Linked DNA regions of Homo sapiens: region 2 is linked to region 1. The links come from fine-mapping of genetic effects on gene expression. Tissue or cell type: whole blood. Region 1 holds a variant in brackets; the other region holds the start of a gene. All regions are shown on one strand. Distances are from middle to middle.

What was found. PIP is the estimated chance that this variant, and not a neighbour inherited with it, causes the effect.
Region 2: it holds the start of ORAI3, and the variant in region 1 is fine-mapped to the expression of ORAI3 in whole blood (TOPMed, PIP 0.97).

Annotation. Positions count from the first base shown.
Region 1 is chr16:30,785,205-30,793,303 of GRCh38, reverse strand. ZNF629 (zinc finger protein 629) reads left to right here and starts at 6,099. Exons shown (of 3, transcript NM_001080417.3): 1 at 6,099-6,276. RefSeq lists an enhancer at 6,030-6,149. The variant T/A (reference allele first, on the strand shown) is at 3,441.
Region 2 is chr16:30,944,720-30,952,809 of GRCh38, reverse strand. It overlaps ORAI3 (ORAI calcium release-activated calcium modulator 3), which reads right to left and starts at 3,742. Exons shown (of 2, transcript NM_152288.3): 1 at 3,293-3,742. The coding sequence starts at 3,520. It overlaps FBXL19 (F-box and leucine rich repeat protein 19), which reads right to left. Exons shown (of 11, transcript NM_001382779.1): 10 at 5,862-6,080; 11 at 4,027-5,758. The coding sequence ends at 5,580. RefSeq lists enhancers at 1,869-2,386, 2,387-2,616, 2,905-3,423 and silencers at 3,347-3,396, 3,437-3,696, 4,067-4,316.

The sequences.
Region 1 (8,099 bases):
AGCTTCAGTAGTAGATATGGTTGAAGGCAACCTGTTCTTTACTTTTTAACAAATTAAAGTAGTAATAAAGGCAGAGTAGTTTACCTAGCTAGCTTCTTTACTCATTCGATCTTAAAACTAACTTTTGATGTACCAGATGCTTAAGTGCTTTTTAATCGGGAAGTCCGCAATGTCAATTACCTTCTAATGGTGTTGACTCAAGCTTTTGTTAATTAATCTTACTGAATAAATATGAGTCTGACTAGCTGATCAGGGTCGCAGTCGCAACTGTTTACAGGACTCAGCACGGAGCCTGTAAGCGGCTTGGACCCTCAGCTGGAGTGGCAGAGCAGAGTATCTGTGTGCCGTTATACTTTATTCATCCATCGCCAGGTCAGGGGTCTGCAAGGGACAGACTCCCCGCAGCTGGTGCCCCCTCGAAAGGAGTGCTGCTGCAGGTTTGGACCCGGGTCTACCTCCAGGACCTCACTTTTTTGTTTGTTTTTTGTTTTGAAATGCAGTTTTGCTCTGTCACTCAGGCTGGAATGCAGTGGCACGATCTTGGCTCACTGCAACATCTGCCTCCTGGGTTCAAGTGATTCTCCTGCCTCAGCCTCCCAAGTAGCTGGGATTACAGGCGCCCACCATCATGCCCAGCTAATTTTTGTATTTTTAGTAGAGATGGGATTACAGGTGTGAGCCACCGCACCTGGCCAGGAACTCACTGTTATTGCAGCCCCTCGGGGCATAAGGCCCATAACTAAGAAGAGCATTGGGCCGGGCATGGTGGTTCACGCCTGTAATCCAAGCACTTTGGGAGGCCGAGGCAGGCAGATCATGAGGTCAGGAGTTCGAGACCAGCCTGGCCAATATGGTGAAACCCCGTCTCTACTAAAAATACAAAAATTAGCTGGGCGTGGTGGTATGTGTCTGTAGTCCCAGCTACTCGGGAGGCAGAAGAATCCCTTGAACTCAGGAGGTGGAGGTTGCAGTGAGCCGAGACCGTGCCACTGCACTCCAGCCTGGGCAACACAGCAACACTCGTCTCAAACAAACAAACAAAGAGAAGAGCATTGGGTGAGTTGTTCATGACAGGTGTGGGGGTGGGATCCTCTACATCCCTGCAAGAGCTCCCCTGCCAGGCAGGTTGCTGCCATGGCTGCGATGCCAGCTGATTGAGGGCAAGAGGACATGGCAGCCTTTATATCCCTAGGAGCAGGACACCCAGACTCTTCCTGGAGGATGTATTGGCCCAAATGGGGGTGCCCTGCCCTTCCCAGCTCCTCTCTCCAACTCTGAGGGAGAAGACGGAGGGACTGAGAGGCTCACCCTTGGGTCCCAGACACGCTTGGGCCCATCTGAGCAGGAGAGACGTGTTTAGGATCCACGGTGGCTCTGAAGTCACCGTGCGTGGATTTAAATCCACTCCTGCCACTGGTGACCTGTGTGCAAGTGACTTACCCTTTCTGTCCCAGGATGATAATAATAATGGTGCCATGAGTTGTGGAGGTTTAAGGAGTCATTACATGCAAACACAGTGCCTAGTGCATAAGTGCTCAATAAATGTAACTATGTCAGCAGGCACCATCCTCATGTGTTACTCTGGAGCTGGGCGTGGTGGCTTATGCCCATCATCTCAGCACTTTGCGGGGTGAAGATGGGAGGACTGCTTGAATCCAGGAGTTTGAGACCAGCCTGGGCAATATAGTGAGATCCTATTTCTATAAAAATATTTAAAAAATTATTCAGGAAGAAGTTTTGTGAGGAACAAAAAAATTTTAAATTAAGTTAGCCAGGCATGGTGGCACGCACCTGTAGCTTCAGCTACTTGAGAGGCTAAGGTGGGAGGATTGCTTGAGCGTAGAAATTCAAGGCTGCTGTGAGCTATGATCGTGCCACTGCACTCCAGCCTGGGTGACAGCAAGACACTGTCTCTAAAAATAAAAAATTACTCTGAACCTTGGAGACACAGACTAAGGGGTCCAGAATCTATACCTACAGTTAAACGGGAGTTGGAACATCAGCAGTGAAGGACCATTCATATAATGAAGCCACCTTGGCCTCAGGGTTGGGGACACAGAGGAATGACAGGGATGGTGACCAGCTGGCAGGTCAGTGCCCTGTAAAGACGCAAGCTGCCCAGCAACAGCCAGTTACTGACATGTGAAAATGTGGATCACGTTGCCACATCTTTGGATTTTCCAAAGAAGCAGGAAATTCAGGCCAGGCGCGGTGGCTCAGGCCTGTAATCCCAGCACTTTGGGAGGCTGAGGTGGGCAGATCACAGCGTCAGGAGATTGAGACCATCCTGGCTAACACAGTGAAACCCTGTCTCTACTAAAAATACAAAAAAATTAGCTGGTTGTGGTGGTAGGCGCCTGCAGTCCCAGGTACTCAGAAGACTGAGGCAGGAGAATGGTGTGAACCCGGGAGGCAGAGCTTGCAGTGAGCCAAGATTGCACCACTGCACTCTAGCCTGGGTGACAGTGCGAGACTCTGTCTCAATCAATCAATCAATCAATAAAGAAGCAAGAAATTCAATTTTTAATTTTTTTTTCTTTTTGAGATAGAGTCTTACTATGTCACCCAGGGTGGAGTGCAGTGGCATGATCTCAGCTGACTGCAACCTCTACCAACTGGGTTCAAGCAATTCTCATGCCTCAGCCTCCAGAGTAGCTAGGACTACAGGTGCATGCCACTATGTCCAGTCTCACTCTGTCACCCAGGCTGGAGTGCAGTAGTGCGATCTCTGCTCACTGCAACCTCCACCTCCCGGGTTCAAGCAATTCTCCTGCCTCAGCCTCCTGAGTAGCTGGGATTACAGGTGTGCGCCACTATGCCCAACTAATTTTTGTATTTTTAGTAGAGACGGGGTTTCACCATGTTGGTCAGACTGGTCTCGAACTCCTGACCTCGTGATCCGCCTGCCTCAGCAACCCAAAGTGCTGGGATTACAGGCGTGAGCCACTGCGCCCAGCCAGCCCCAGCTAATTTTTGTATTTTTAGTAGAGATGGGGTTTCACCATGTTGGCCAGGCTGGTCTTGAACTCCTGACTTCAGGTAATCCTCCCGCCTCAGCCTCCCAAAGTGCTGGGATTACAGGCATGAGCCACCATGCCAGGCAATTTTTAATGTGTGTTTTTTGTTGTTGTTGTTGTTGTTTGTTTTTTGAGACAGAGTCTTGCTCTGTCGCCCAGGCTGGAGTGCAGTGGCACGATCTCGGCTCACTGCAAGCTCCGTCTCCCAGGTTCACGCCATTCTCCTGCCTCAGCCTCCCAAGTAGCTGGGACTACAGGCGCCTGCCACCATGCCCGGCTAATTTTTTGTATTTTTAGTAGAGACTGGATTTCACCGTGTTAGCCAGGATGGTCTTGATCTCCTGACCTCATGATCCGCCTGCCTCGGCCTCCCAAAGTTCTGGGATTACAGGCGTGAGTCACTGCGCCCGGCCTAATTTTTTT[T/A]AAAATTATTATTATTATTATTTTGAGACTGAGTCTTGCTCTTGTTGCCCAGGCTGGAGTGCAGTGGCGCCATCTCGACTCACTGCAACCTCCACCTCCTGGGTTTTAAGTGATTCTCCTGCCTCAGCCTCCTGAGTAACAGGGATTACAGGTGCACGCCACCATGCCCAGCTAATTTTTTGTATTTTTAGTAGAGACAGAGTTTCACCATGTTGGCCAGGCTGGTCTTGAACTCCTGCCCACAAGTGATCTGCCCACCTCAGCCTCCCAAAGTGCTGGGATTACAGGTGTGAGCCACCTCGCCAAACCATCTTTTTTTTTTTTTTTTTTGAGATGAGAGTCTCGCTCTGTCACCCAGGCTGGAGTGCAGTGGCATGATCTCGGCTCACTGCAACCTCCACCTCCCAGGTTCAAGAGATTCACCTGCCTTAGCCTCCCAAGTGGCTGGGACTACAGGTATGTGCCACCACTCCCGGCTAATTTTTTGTATTTTTAGTAGAGACAGGGTTTCACCATGTTAGCCAGGATGATCTCAATCTCCTGACCTCATGATCTGCCCGCCCTGGCCTCCCAAAGTGCTGGGATTACAGGCATAAGCCACCGTGCCCTGCCCGGACTTTTTTTTTTTTTTTTGAGACAGGGTCTCACTCTGCCACCCAGGCTGGAGTGCAGTGGTGCAATCATGGCTCACTACAGCCTCCACCTCCCAGAATTAAGTGATTCTCCTGCCTCAGCCCAAGTAGCTGTGACCATAGCGATGCACCACCACGCCAGGGTAATTGTTTGTTTTTGTTGTTGTTGTTGTCTTTCTTTTTTTTTGAGACCGAGTTTTGGTCTTGTTGCCCAGGCTGGAGTGCAATGGCACGATCTCAGCTCACTGCAATCTCCGCCTCCTAGGTTCAAGCGCTTCTCCTGCCTCAGCGTCCCAAGCAGCTGGGATTACAGGTATGCACCACCACGCTGGGCTAATTTTTGTATTTTAGTAGAGATGGGGCTTCTCCATGTTGGTCAGGCTGGTCTTGAACTCCTGACCTCAGGTGATCCACCCACCTTGGCCTCCCAAAGTGCTGGGATTACAGGCATGAGCCACCGCGCCCTGCCCAGCTAATTGTTTTTAAGTTTTTTGTAGAGACAGGGTTTCACTATGTTGCCCAGCCTTCAAACTCCTGGGCTCAAGTTACCCTTCTGCCTCAGCCTCCCAAAGTGCTGGGATTACAGGCATGAGCCACCAGGCCTGGCCTTTAGCAATTTTTTCTCTTTCCTGTTTTCTCTTTTCCTTCCTTCCTTCCTTCCTTTTCTCTCTTTCTCTCCCTCCCTCCCTCCTTCTTTTTTTTTTTTTTTTTGCGACAGGATCTCACTCTGTCGTCCAGGCTGCAGTGCAGTGGCTCAATCTTGGCTTATTGCAACCTCTGCCTCCCGGGCTCAAGCGATCTGCCTGCCTCGGCCTCACAAAGTGCTGGGATTATAGGCATGAGCCACTGCGCCTGGCTAATTTTTGTATTTTTAGTAGAGACATGGTTTCACCATGTTGTCCAGGCTGGTCTCAAACTCCTGACCTCAAGTGATCCGCCTGCCTTGGTCTCCCAAAGGGTTGGGATTACAGGCGTGAGCCACCGCACCCAGCTGCCTTTAGTAATTTCTGACCTTTGGTTTATTCTTCCCCCCAGCCTCTCAGTCTCTGGACAGAGCCCTCTGCACGCTCCCAGGATTCCTCTGTGTTTGTAACACATACACAATACCAAACTTCCCAAGGGTAGAAAGCCCAATTTCCATGCATCTCAGAGGTATGCCCACCCCAGTGTTAACCACAGTGCCCAGGAATAATAATGCAGTGTGTTGAACTGAAAGAATCAGGTGGCCTTAAGTACACCAGTCGCTTCTCACACCTTGGTTTCCTCCCCGGTGAAATGGGGATGATGGGCAACCTTATCCCATGGGACTGTGATAAGGAAGACAAGAAAGAAAGGCTGTAAAAATTGCGAGCATAGATAACTTGGACGTTGAGAGGCCACCAGTGTTCCTGGGTTTTTAAAGGTTTCTTCTGCTGTGAGCCGGGTGCCCTCTGAGCTATGAGAAAAGAGGTTCTCCCTCCTTGGCCAGGGAACCCCCACTGGCTTCTTTCCTGCCACCGTGAGCCTCAGTTTCCTCCTCTGAGGGGAGGTGTTTGGAGAAGAGGGGCTGGAACACAGGCTATTGCAAATCCTTCCCGGCTGTGCTTGTTCCTGCAGTCCCAACTCCTGCAGCCATGACTTCCATCAAGCATTAAGGCCATGTTTAGTGCGTAGGGTGTTCCCTCTCAGGTCTGCTCTGCCAGCCCCTGCTCCCACCCCAGCCCCATCCCAGGGTTAGTCCAAACAAAGACTGGCCTCAGGGGATCAGCAGCCGCCAAATCTGAGATAGGGCTTTCCGGGCGCGGCCGGCGGAGCCCCTGCGAAATGAAGAGCGGCCAGAAGCCCAGGGACCCTCGCGGGCATCGGGGCTCTCCCAGATGCCCACGCTGCCTGCTCCCACTGGAGACGGGGACAGGGGCGTCGTCCCAGCCTCCTCCCTGCTCCCACCGCTGTCCCCTTTTTTCCCCAGGCTGCGGGAGGCAAAGGGTTAAATCCCATAGAGCTGATGCTCTGACTCCAGGCTAGAGGGGCCCGGGAAGCTGGGGTCACTTCCTGCTCCGTCCCAGTCACCCTGAACTGGTCCCCGGGTCCTCAGCCTGGAATCACCCCTTGAGAAGGACCCCAGAGTCCTCGGCGCCCAGTCCGTCCCCCGAGGCAGGGCACTGAAGGGGTTAAGTCCCCTGGGGCTGGATTCCGCCTTCCGGCTTTTCCCAGACCCCAGAGCCGTGAGTTGGGGACGCCTGGGTTCCCGGGGGGTGGCCTGGAGTGCCCGGGACGGCCGCCGGGGAACAATGGGGCCCGGGAGGCGGGGGCCGGGAGCCCGGGCCTGAGCCCCCCACCCGCGCCCGGGGCTGTGGCCGGGGTGGGGGCGGGCGGGGGGCGCGGAGGGCCGAGGATTCTGGGAAGCGCGGGGGTCGGTGGCGGGGGAGGGGAGCCTGGGGATTCTGGGAAGAGGGATCGGCCGGGGCCGGGGACCAGCGCTGCCAGCGCAGCCCTGGAGGAGCCTGGCAGTGCTGGAAGGAGCCGGGACCCCGGGGGCCGGGGCAGGGGCGGATGCCCAGGCTCTGTATCAGCAGCGGGACGGGGGTCGCGGCTCCGGGGGAGCAGAAGTCCGGAGCCAAGCGGTGGGGGGGCCGGGCCGGGCGGCCGCATTCCCGCCGCCTCCATGTCAGGGTCACCCTGGGCCGTTCCCCACATCTCTCGGGAGGCGGCTCCTCATTCCCTCCCTCTGCAGTGGGGCCATCGCGAGGTCTCAGGCTGGCGTGCCTGGCGCCTGGGCTCCCAGCGCCTCGGCCTCCCTCGGTCTTCCCACGTCCATGCTCTGTGTCGGCCCTGTCATTAACCCTTTCCCTCCTACTCTGGACCACTAGGGGAGAATTTTTTGGAGACCATCGAGGTCCACAAACTCTTACCTGTCCCGAGCAAACACAGCAGGGCATCCTTCCCGGACCGGACATCAGGCAGCCCCCAGTGTGGCAGAGGTCTCCGCTTCCACCACCCCAAAGACACTTACAGGCGGGGAGGGGGGATTCTCGGAGCTTAAGTAGCTGCAGAGATGAAGAAATTAATTTACTTCCTAAACGCTAACTTCTGTCTCTCCTACCGCTCTTTGGCAGGGTGCAGCCAGTCTTGCTTCACCTTGGTCACCTCTCAGCGCCTCCTGCCATGTCTCCCTTGCCCCACTGCCCCTGTGCACACAGCGCCCACCTCACACAGCCATCCAAAGTTTCCAGGCCCCACCCAGGGATTCTCTGCAGGGTGTAAATGGTGTGGGACCTCCTTCAAGCGCTTTGTTCCTGTGGCCCCATTCCCTCATCCTGAACTCATCTCACCATTTTTGGAGTGACAGCTGGCTGTTTTTATTTATTTATTTATTTATTTATTTATTTATTTTACCAGGGGGCCACTTGGAACTCCTGCTCCTTTGCTGCCATCCCCTTGCAAACTGATCTTTAAAGGCATTAGACCAAACAGGTGTTCCAGGGGCTAGGGACATCTCACTCATTCATTCATTCAACAAAGTTTCTGGAGCACCTATTCAGTGCCAGGCTAGGCTTGGGAAACAGCCTCAAGAAAGCAGGACAAAAGGAGTAGAAGGAGGGTCCGGGCAGGAGTGGGGATAGGAGGGCTTTGGTGGGGAGTATGGTTCCAGCTCATGGGTGCAGACCAGCAGGCCTAGTCCCTGGGTCCAACTCCTCCTTTTCTAGCCTGGGAAACCTCTGGGTCCCAGGAATTTCTCCAGCCTATTCTCACTGCCAGCAGGCTCCCCATGAGCTGTCCTCATCACCTGTCTCCTGCCAGCCTCCCATGAGCATGAGTCTCACATGACTCCCAAGGTCACCTCGTGCTCTCAGAGACAGGGGTGAGCCAGATATGGAGCCCTGCTTTTATCATCTTAGCTCTGCCACTTCCCAGCCTTGACCTTGGAGAGGTTTCCCCAGGCATTGATGTACTAATCTGTAAAATGGACAGCCTGATTCCTGGGTCTCCTCACCAGGCTGTGGGAGGACTGGGTGAGAGAAATGACACCATGGCAGGCACTGGGTCT
Region 2 (8,090 bases), 160 kb before region 1:
CCTGTAATCCCTGCTACTTGAGAGGCTGAGGCAGGAGAACTGCTTGAACCCAGGAGGCAGAAGTTTGAGTGAGCCGAGATCATGTGACTGCACTCCAGCCTGGGCAACAGAGCAAGACTCTGTCTCAAAAAAAAATTAAAAATAAAAATAAAAAAAAGGGCTGGATGACATGCTTCTAACAGGTTTACTGCATAGGGATCAAACAGCAGATTCTGGAGCTGGGCTGCCTGGGATCATTCTCTGCTCTAGCTGTGTAATCTTGAGCAAGTCAGTTCTCTGTGTGCCTCAATTTCCTATCTGGAAATAGAGATTGATAACAGCACCTCCCTGCCTTATAGGGTTGGTATAAACATTAAATGAAATATACATGAAATGGGCTGGGAGTGGTGGCTCACGCCTTTCATCCCAACACTTTGGGAGGCCGAGTTGGGCGGATCACCTGAGGTCAGGAGTTCAAGACCAGCCTGGCCAACATGGTGAAACCCTGTCTCTACTAAAAATATAAAAATTAGCCGGGCGTGGTGGTGTGCGCCTGTAATCCCGGCTACTCAGGAGCTTGGGAGGCTAAGGCAGGAGAATTGCTTGAACCCAGGAGGCAGAGGTTGCAGTGAGCCGAGATCGCACCACTGCACTCCAGCCTGGGTGACAGTGTGGGACTCTGTCTCAAAAAAAAAAAAAAAAGAAAGATAAGAAAGAAAAGAAAGAAAGAAAAAGAAAGAGGAAAGGAAAGGAAAAGGAAAAGGAAGAAAAAGAAAAAGAACAGTGCCAGGCACAGAGTAAGCACTAGGTATGTGTTTGCTGTTCTTGCTATAGTGAATGCTAAAGTCTGAGGACAGAGTTTACAAATCGGCACACTGTGGACCACTGCCAGCTTGCAGACGTGTTTTGCTTGGCTCACACAGTGTGTTTCTTAAAAAATGGAAGATGCTGCCAACTTGTAAAACTGAAGAGATTTCTTATATCCCTATTTCCAGATCCCCTTGAAAACTTGGAAGAACTAGCCACACTTGGCCTGCGTTCCTGCATGGCAACTATCAGCTCAAATCAGTCATGGCTGCTCCCCTTGGAAAGGTCATGGGGTCTCTCTTTTTTTTTTTTTGGTAGATGCCAGGTCTTGCTATGTTGCCCAGGCTGGCTGGACTCGAACTCCTGGGCTCCTAGGCTCAAGCGATCCTCCTGCCTTGGCCTCCCAAAGTGCTGGGATGAAAGGTGTGAGCCATCACCCCCAATGTCATGGGGTCTCTTGCTTGCTAGTCCCTACCCAGCCAATTTGGCATCCATATTACCTGCCTGGCCCTTTGCAAACATTTGAGTTGATGACCCTATTCTAGGAATTTATAAATTTGGAGTCTGGAACCAGACGGCTTAGGCTCAAATCCTGCCACTTACTTGCTGTGGGACCTTGGGCAGGTGTCTTAACATCTCTGATCCTCAGTTTCCTCATCTGTAAAATGGCCAGAGTAGCAGTACCCACTTTGTAGGCTAACAGATGATGTATATAAAGGCACTGAGGGCAGTGCCTGGTGCTTAGTGACAGCTGGATACAATTTGTATAATGCTATTCTAACTTAGGCCACCTGAGTTTCAGAAGCCCACTCTCTCCCCATCCCTGGTTCTTGTAGGGTCCATTCGATTGCTCTGGGCCTGGGGAAAGAAGAAGGTAGGTGTAGAGGCTGGCGGGTGGAGGTAGGAAAACAGGGCTGAGTATTTTGGGAAATTGGGCCATGGCAGGTGTCAGGAGGTGTTTTCCACAGACAGGGATCTGGGCCAGGCTTAGTCCTGGTTTCTCCCAGAGCCTGGCCCAGCCTCGGTCACCCCTGCTAGGACTGCGGCCAGTCCTGCCCCCGGAACCTAAACCTCCAGCCCCTTCCTCCTGCAGAGAAGGCTCGGGCCCTTAAGCTGTCACCCCAGCAACCTGCACCTGCATATTCTGCCGTGGAGGGATTGTCTCCTTGGGAACAGGCTGGACCATGGGGTTGACCTCCCTCAGCTTGGGTGGCTGCTCCCTTCCCTCTGCAGGCTGTGCAGATGAAGGGGAGCCAACATCCTGTCCCTAGGTGATGCCCCCATCATGAAAGGTAAGCTGGTCTGTGGATTCTGGGACCCCACATAGAAGACCATAGGCTTATGATGACCCTTAGGGTTAGAGAGTTTCCCTGTCATTGTTCAAATATGGAGGTTGTGGCACAGACAGGGCAGGGACTAGCCCAGATCCCCTAGCGCCATGGTCCCCACCCCAACCGCCTCTGATATCCACCCCCACAGGAGTGCGTTCCCCAAAGTACCTCCTGCAGCTCACTTTCTCCTTTTTCCTGGGGTGATGGTGGGGCAACCCCAGACTAACAGAGCAGCAACCCTGGGTCCCAGTTCATTCGCTCCTGCCCAGAGGCAAGGCTTTTACTTTCCACACCTGTCCAATTAGCAGGCTAGTCTGAGCCATCCTTGGTACGTGACCTGCTCTGACATGCCTGGCTCACCCTGGGGCGGTTACTTGGCTGGCTACAGAGGGCGCACCCTCCATGATCTCAGTTTCCCACTGGCTTGCAAGCGGGGTGGAGGCCTGTCCAGGGTCACACAGCTGGCCACAAGCAGGGAGGAGCCAGGACTGTGTCTGCTGATCCTCACCCTGGGACCTCCCTCCATCCCACTTCCTGTGAGGCCACTGCTGGGGCAGACCGTTAGCCAACACCGTCCTCCTGCACCTGGGGTTTATCAGCTTGAGACTCGCTTATCAGTTTCCTCATCAGCCTCCTTCCCCAGCGGTTCCCTCCCGGGCATGATCTCTTGTCAGTTTTCCTGGTTGACACTAGCACCCCTTGGGCCCGCTGGAGAGTGGCCACCTTCCCTGGGACGGGCCCACCTTCAGCTGGGTGACCCTTCCACCCAGCTAATCCATCTCGAGCCCCCCACCTGTTGATGCAGCCCCCACCCAGCTGACCTGCCTTTGAAGCTGGCACTGGGACTTAGGAACCACTTCTGCCAGGTACAGGCTCCATCTGGACCACTCTGCCTCACTGTTGCAGTCAACCCCACCAGCGATTTGTTCACCCCACTCCCACTACGACACCTTTAGGACTTTCGTGTCCTCCGGTGGCCCCGTCTCCTGGGGTCCCCTGTACACACACATCCGTAAGAAGGGACTTGCTCAGTCCCGCGGGACCTTGTTCCTTCCCCCTTTGACGAAAGCCCCCTTTAACCTGTCTCCCTTGGGACCTGTTTACTTCGCCCCCCCCCCGACCTGTGCCCCCCACTTGCTCTGCCCCACCGGGTGTGACCCCTCCCGGCCCCTCACCATGGCGAAGCCCGAGAGCAAGGCAGACGTGCGGCTGGAAGCTTTGAGCTTGGCCCGGCTGAGGTAGAGGCGGCGCCAGCTGAGCGCCCGCAGCGAGTGCTGACTGGCCCCCATGAGGTCCAGGTAGCCGCGGTGCACGAACTCCCGGTACGTGGCCGAGCCTGCAGGGCTCTCGCCCTCAGGGTTCAGCGGGGCCTGCTCGCCCGCGTCCCCCTCGCCGCCCTTCATCCTGGGGGGGGGGCGGCACCAGGCGGTCACTACGGGGCGGAAGCGCCTCGGGGGCCCCAGCCGGGCCGGCCCAAGCCCGGGGGCGGCCCCATTCCCAGACAGGACGAGCAGGATGCAGGCGGCGGGCGCCCAGGAAGAGGCACCCCCAGTGGAGCAAGAAAAGCAGCGTCTGCGGGGAGCCCCAGGAGCCGGAGCGGGACAGCGGAGGCCAAAACAGGAACTGGGACAGAGGCGGAGCCGGGGCTAGCCACATGATGGGGTGGAGCCGGGGACCAAGTCCCCGCAGTCCCGGGCCCGCAGAGATTCCCCGCGACCCCTACCCACCAAGAACGTTATCCAAGCGCCCGGACCCCACCGAGGTGCACGCCAACCCCAGCCCCCTCCAAGGTACAGCTGGACACCCCAGGTGTCCACACTTCCAAATCCCTCCCAAAATGAGTCCAGGAGAGGTGAGCCCACTCATCTGTAGGTAGGGACCCCGCAGATACACACACGAACTCCGCAGCCCCGGCTGGAAGATTTTGAGTTTTATAGCAAACCGTATTGTACAGACCCGGGGCCCAGGGGCCCAGCCCGGCTGGGTCCCCCGCTTGCCCCTCGCCGGGCTGCCTCTTCCCTCCCCCAAGCGGCCCCATTCTCAAGCCTCTCGCTATCCCCAGGCCCCACCCCTCCGGCCTTTGGTCCGCCCAGCCCTCCCCCCACCCGCGCACCTCCCTGTTACCTGAGGTATGTGGATAGATCTCCCCTCCCCTACATGGTAAGCCCCGGCCCCCCGGAGGCCTGCGCGGAGGGGCGGGACCTGGCCCGGCTCATCCCCGGGGTCCCGAAGCCCCACCCCGCGCTCGAGGAAGGGGCAGGGAAGGAGGGCCAGCAGAGTCTGTTACTAGGTTCCCATGGCAACTAAGAGGGGGCCATTTCCAGCCTTAGCACTGGCATCGGGAGGTGTCCGTTGGCTGCTATTTCCATGGCAACCAGGAGTGGCAGTTCCCTGGGCAAATGGGATACAAGTTTCCATGACGATGAAAGAGTGGGAAGAGCCAGGCTGGAGGAGTCCCATGGTCCCCATTCTTGGGCTGGCGCCCCCAGCCATAATGCGGGTCCGGCGGGTGCCGCCGCTCAATACAGTAAAACAAGAACAAGCCTGGGGGTGGCGCAGTCCCAAATGGGCGCCCACCGGCCCGGTCTCAGGTCTCAGTCCAAGCTGGTCCAGTCCCCTCACACCCCGGCTCCCCCAGGTCCGAGATTCCCCCGGTTCAAGTAACACTTCAGTACAGATGAATGTTCAAGTATTGTGCGGAGAGGCGGGCAGGGGGTTGGGGCGCCCCTCGCCACTCCCCTGGGCCGCGAGCTGAAGAGCGGCTGCCCGCGGCCCCCACTCCTTGCAATAGCTGCCGTTTTCAGTGACGTTCAAGGAGTCAGGGTCAGGGGGAAGGAACTGAAGCCTGGGGAGGGGGGAAGCAGAGAGGTGACCCCCAAGGGGGTATTGCTGTCCCCACACCTGCTCTCATCCCCACCTCCAGCTCAGCCCCAGCTTGCCCCTGGTTCCCCTACCTCTGACACCTGGATCCCCAATTGCTCCTCCGGTTTTCCTTTTGTGGCCCCACCCCCACCCCCCACTCCAAGTAACTGGTCTTTGTTCCCTGAACCCTTGGTGGTCTGCTGTCTGCCCCGCCCCCCGCCCCTTCCACCTCCCCCAGCCCCTGGCTCCCATATCCTGTGTGTGTCCTTTCCCCATTCTCCCCCCCAACACTTGCACCATAACCCCCCTCCCACCGTCCCTTCGGCTCAGCACCCTCCAGTACCTCTGACCCACTCCCCCAGGGGATGGACAATGAAGCAGGTAGCAGGGGCAGGACATAGGAAGGAGAAACCCCCAGAGATATCAGTGCAGGGGGGAAAGAAGGGGGTGGCTGGCTTGAGTCCCTGGGTGGGAATCCCAAGTCACTGACACTCAGGAATCCCAGGGTGGTGAGGTGGGAACCTGGCCTCCCAGCAGGGGTGAAATGAAGCCGGAGGTCCAGGCTCCTGTCGAGTCCGGGGGAGGGTGGGGGGCGCCCAACTAGCTGTCCTTGAGAAGCAGCTTCTCCTCAGGGCAGCGGAAGGGGCCAGGGGGCCCGGCAGCTGCCAGCCGGGCACAAGCTTCGGGTGAGAGCTGGCGGCAGGAGCGCAGGTCTAGGCGGCGTAGACGAGGGCAGCGGCGGAACAGCGGGAGGCAGTGGTCCGTTAGGCGGTGGCAACCTGGGGATGGGGCAGTGGAGCTGAGACCAGGCAGGTGAGCAAGGGGTTGGCACTGGCCGTGGGGATCCACAGGCTGGCAGGACGGATGGGGGACCGTGCTTACCAGCAAGATTGAGGTGCACCAGGGTCTCGCGGAGTGGGGACGTGGGGGCCGTGAGGAGGTGAACACTGGGGTCCCCGACGTGGGCGCAGTGGCTCAGGTCCAGGGCGCTCAGCTGGGGTGCGTGACGCAGCAGGAGACGCAGGGAGGCATCTGTCAGCTCCAAACCTGCCAGACGCAGTTCTGCCACCCCCTGCAGCCGACCACGGCTCTCTGTTTGCCCTGGGCAGCCAGATGAGAGGTCAGCACTCCTGGCCACTCCCATCCCTGCGCCCAGGTATCCAGACCATCTGCCCTCCACCTGCTTCCCACATAAGTGAGTGACCTGGTGCACTCTGTGGCTTGCTCTTCTCAAAAACACCCTCATGGCCTGACCTCATCTGTCCACTCCTCACATCACCTCCTCGGAGGCCTTCCATGATTATTGTATTTGAGACTACAATATTCTGCCAGGCGTGGTGGCTCATGCCTGTAATCCTAGCACTTTGGGAAGCCGAGGCAGGCGGCTCACTTGAGGTCAGGAGTTCGAGACTAGCCTGGCCTAACATGGCAAAACCTTGTCTCTACTCAACATACAAAAATTAGCCGGGTATGGTGGCAGGCGCCTGTAATCCCGGCTACTCAGGAGGCTGAGGCAGGAGAATCACTTGAACCCGAGAGGTGGAGGTTGCAGTGAGCCACGATTGTGCCACTGCACCCCAGCCTGGGCAACAGAGCGAGACTCCATCTCAAAATAAATAAATAAATAAATAAAAGAGTCTGTGACCTCCCCTCCTCTCTCTTGCTGTCTTGCCATGTGACATGCCGATTCCTTCACGTTCCATCAAGAGTAAAAGCTACGTGAGGCTTCCCCAGAAGCTGAGCAGACGCAGGCACGATACTTCCTGTACAGCTTGCAGAATCCTGAGCCAATTCAACCTCTTTTCTTTATAAATTACCCAGCCGAAGGTATTTCTTTATAGCAATGCAAAAACTAATGTAATTCTCCACACTCCTACCACTTCCTTGCATCATTTTTTCCTCTTTTTCTCACCATTTGACATATTATATGCATTTTTCTGACATACATACGTTTTCCTTTTTTTTTTTTTTTTTTTTTTTTCCCCGAGACGGAGTCTTGCTCTGTCACCCAGGCTGGAGTGCAGTGGTACAATCACAGCTTACTGCAGCCTCAACCTCCCTGTAGCTCACTGTAGCCTTGATCCTCCCACTTTGGCCTCCCAAAGTGCTGGGATTACAGGCCTGAGCCACCGCACCTGACCAGAGTTTACTTTTTTTTTTTTTTTTTTGAGATGGAGTCTCACTCTGTAACCCAGGATGGAGTACAGTGGTGCAATCTCGGCTCACTGCAACTTCCACCTCCCAGGTTCAAGCAATCTCCTTGCCACAGCCTCCCAAGTAGTTGGGATTAAAAGCATTTGCCACCACGCCTGGCTAATTTTTTGTATTTTTTTAGTAGAGATGGGGTTTCACCATGTTGGCCAGGCTGGTCTCAAACTCCTGACCTCAAGTGATCTGCCCACCTCGGCCTCCCAAAGTGCTAGGATTACAGGTGTGAGCCACCATGCCCGGCCCAGAGTTTACTTTTTTAACAAGTTCTCCAGTTTTGTGGATGCTGCTGGTCCCCCGACCACACTTTAAGAACCACAGCCTTGGGAGACAAGATCTCTGATCATCATTCCTGTTTACAGCCAGGAAACCCAGGCCTGGTGATGCTGAATCTGAACTCTTACCACAGTGTTGTCTGCCTCCCAGGCACCAGCCTATCCCTAAGATAAACTATTAATAGATCAGATGGCACAAACCATGAGGCTGCCCTCCAAACATGTTTTATGGAGTCTACAGAATGCTAAAAACTTCCTTAATGACTAACACTACAAAAAGGACATTTTTATAAATAAATTTACATACTGAGCTTTTCCTTGAAGAATCGTAAGATGTGGCCTCACTAGGCACTCCTTCCCACCAGATGATGACTGAGGGGAGCTGGGTGGCTAGGTGCCACTCCCTAATGTCCTACACCAATGCATCACTTCTGTTACCTCCCAGGCCAACTCTATGGGCACTTGACTTTGCAAGCCCTAAATTTTAACCCCTCCTCCTGTCTTTGAGGAGCCAAGCGCCTGGAGAGGGGATACCTTTACAGATGCCCTCAACCTTGGGCCACAGCTAAAGGCACAAGGAGGAAAGGCCCATAGAGGAAAGCAGAGGAAAGAGAAGTCACTTCTGGCT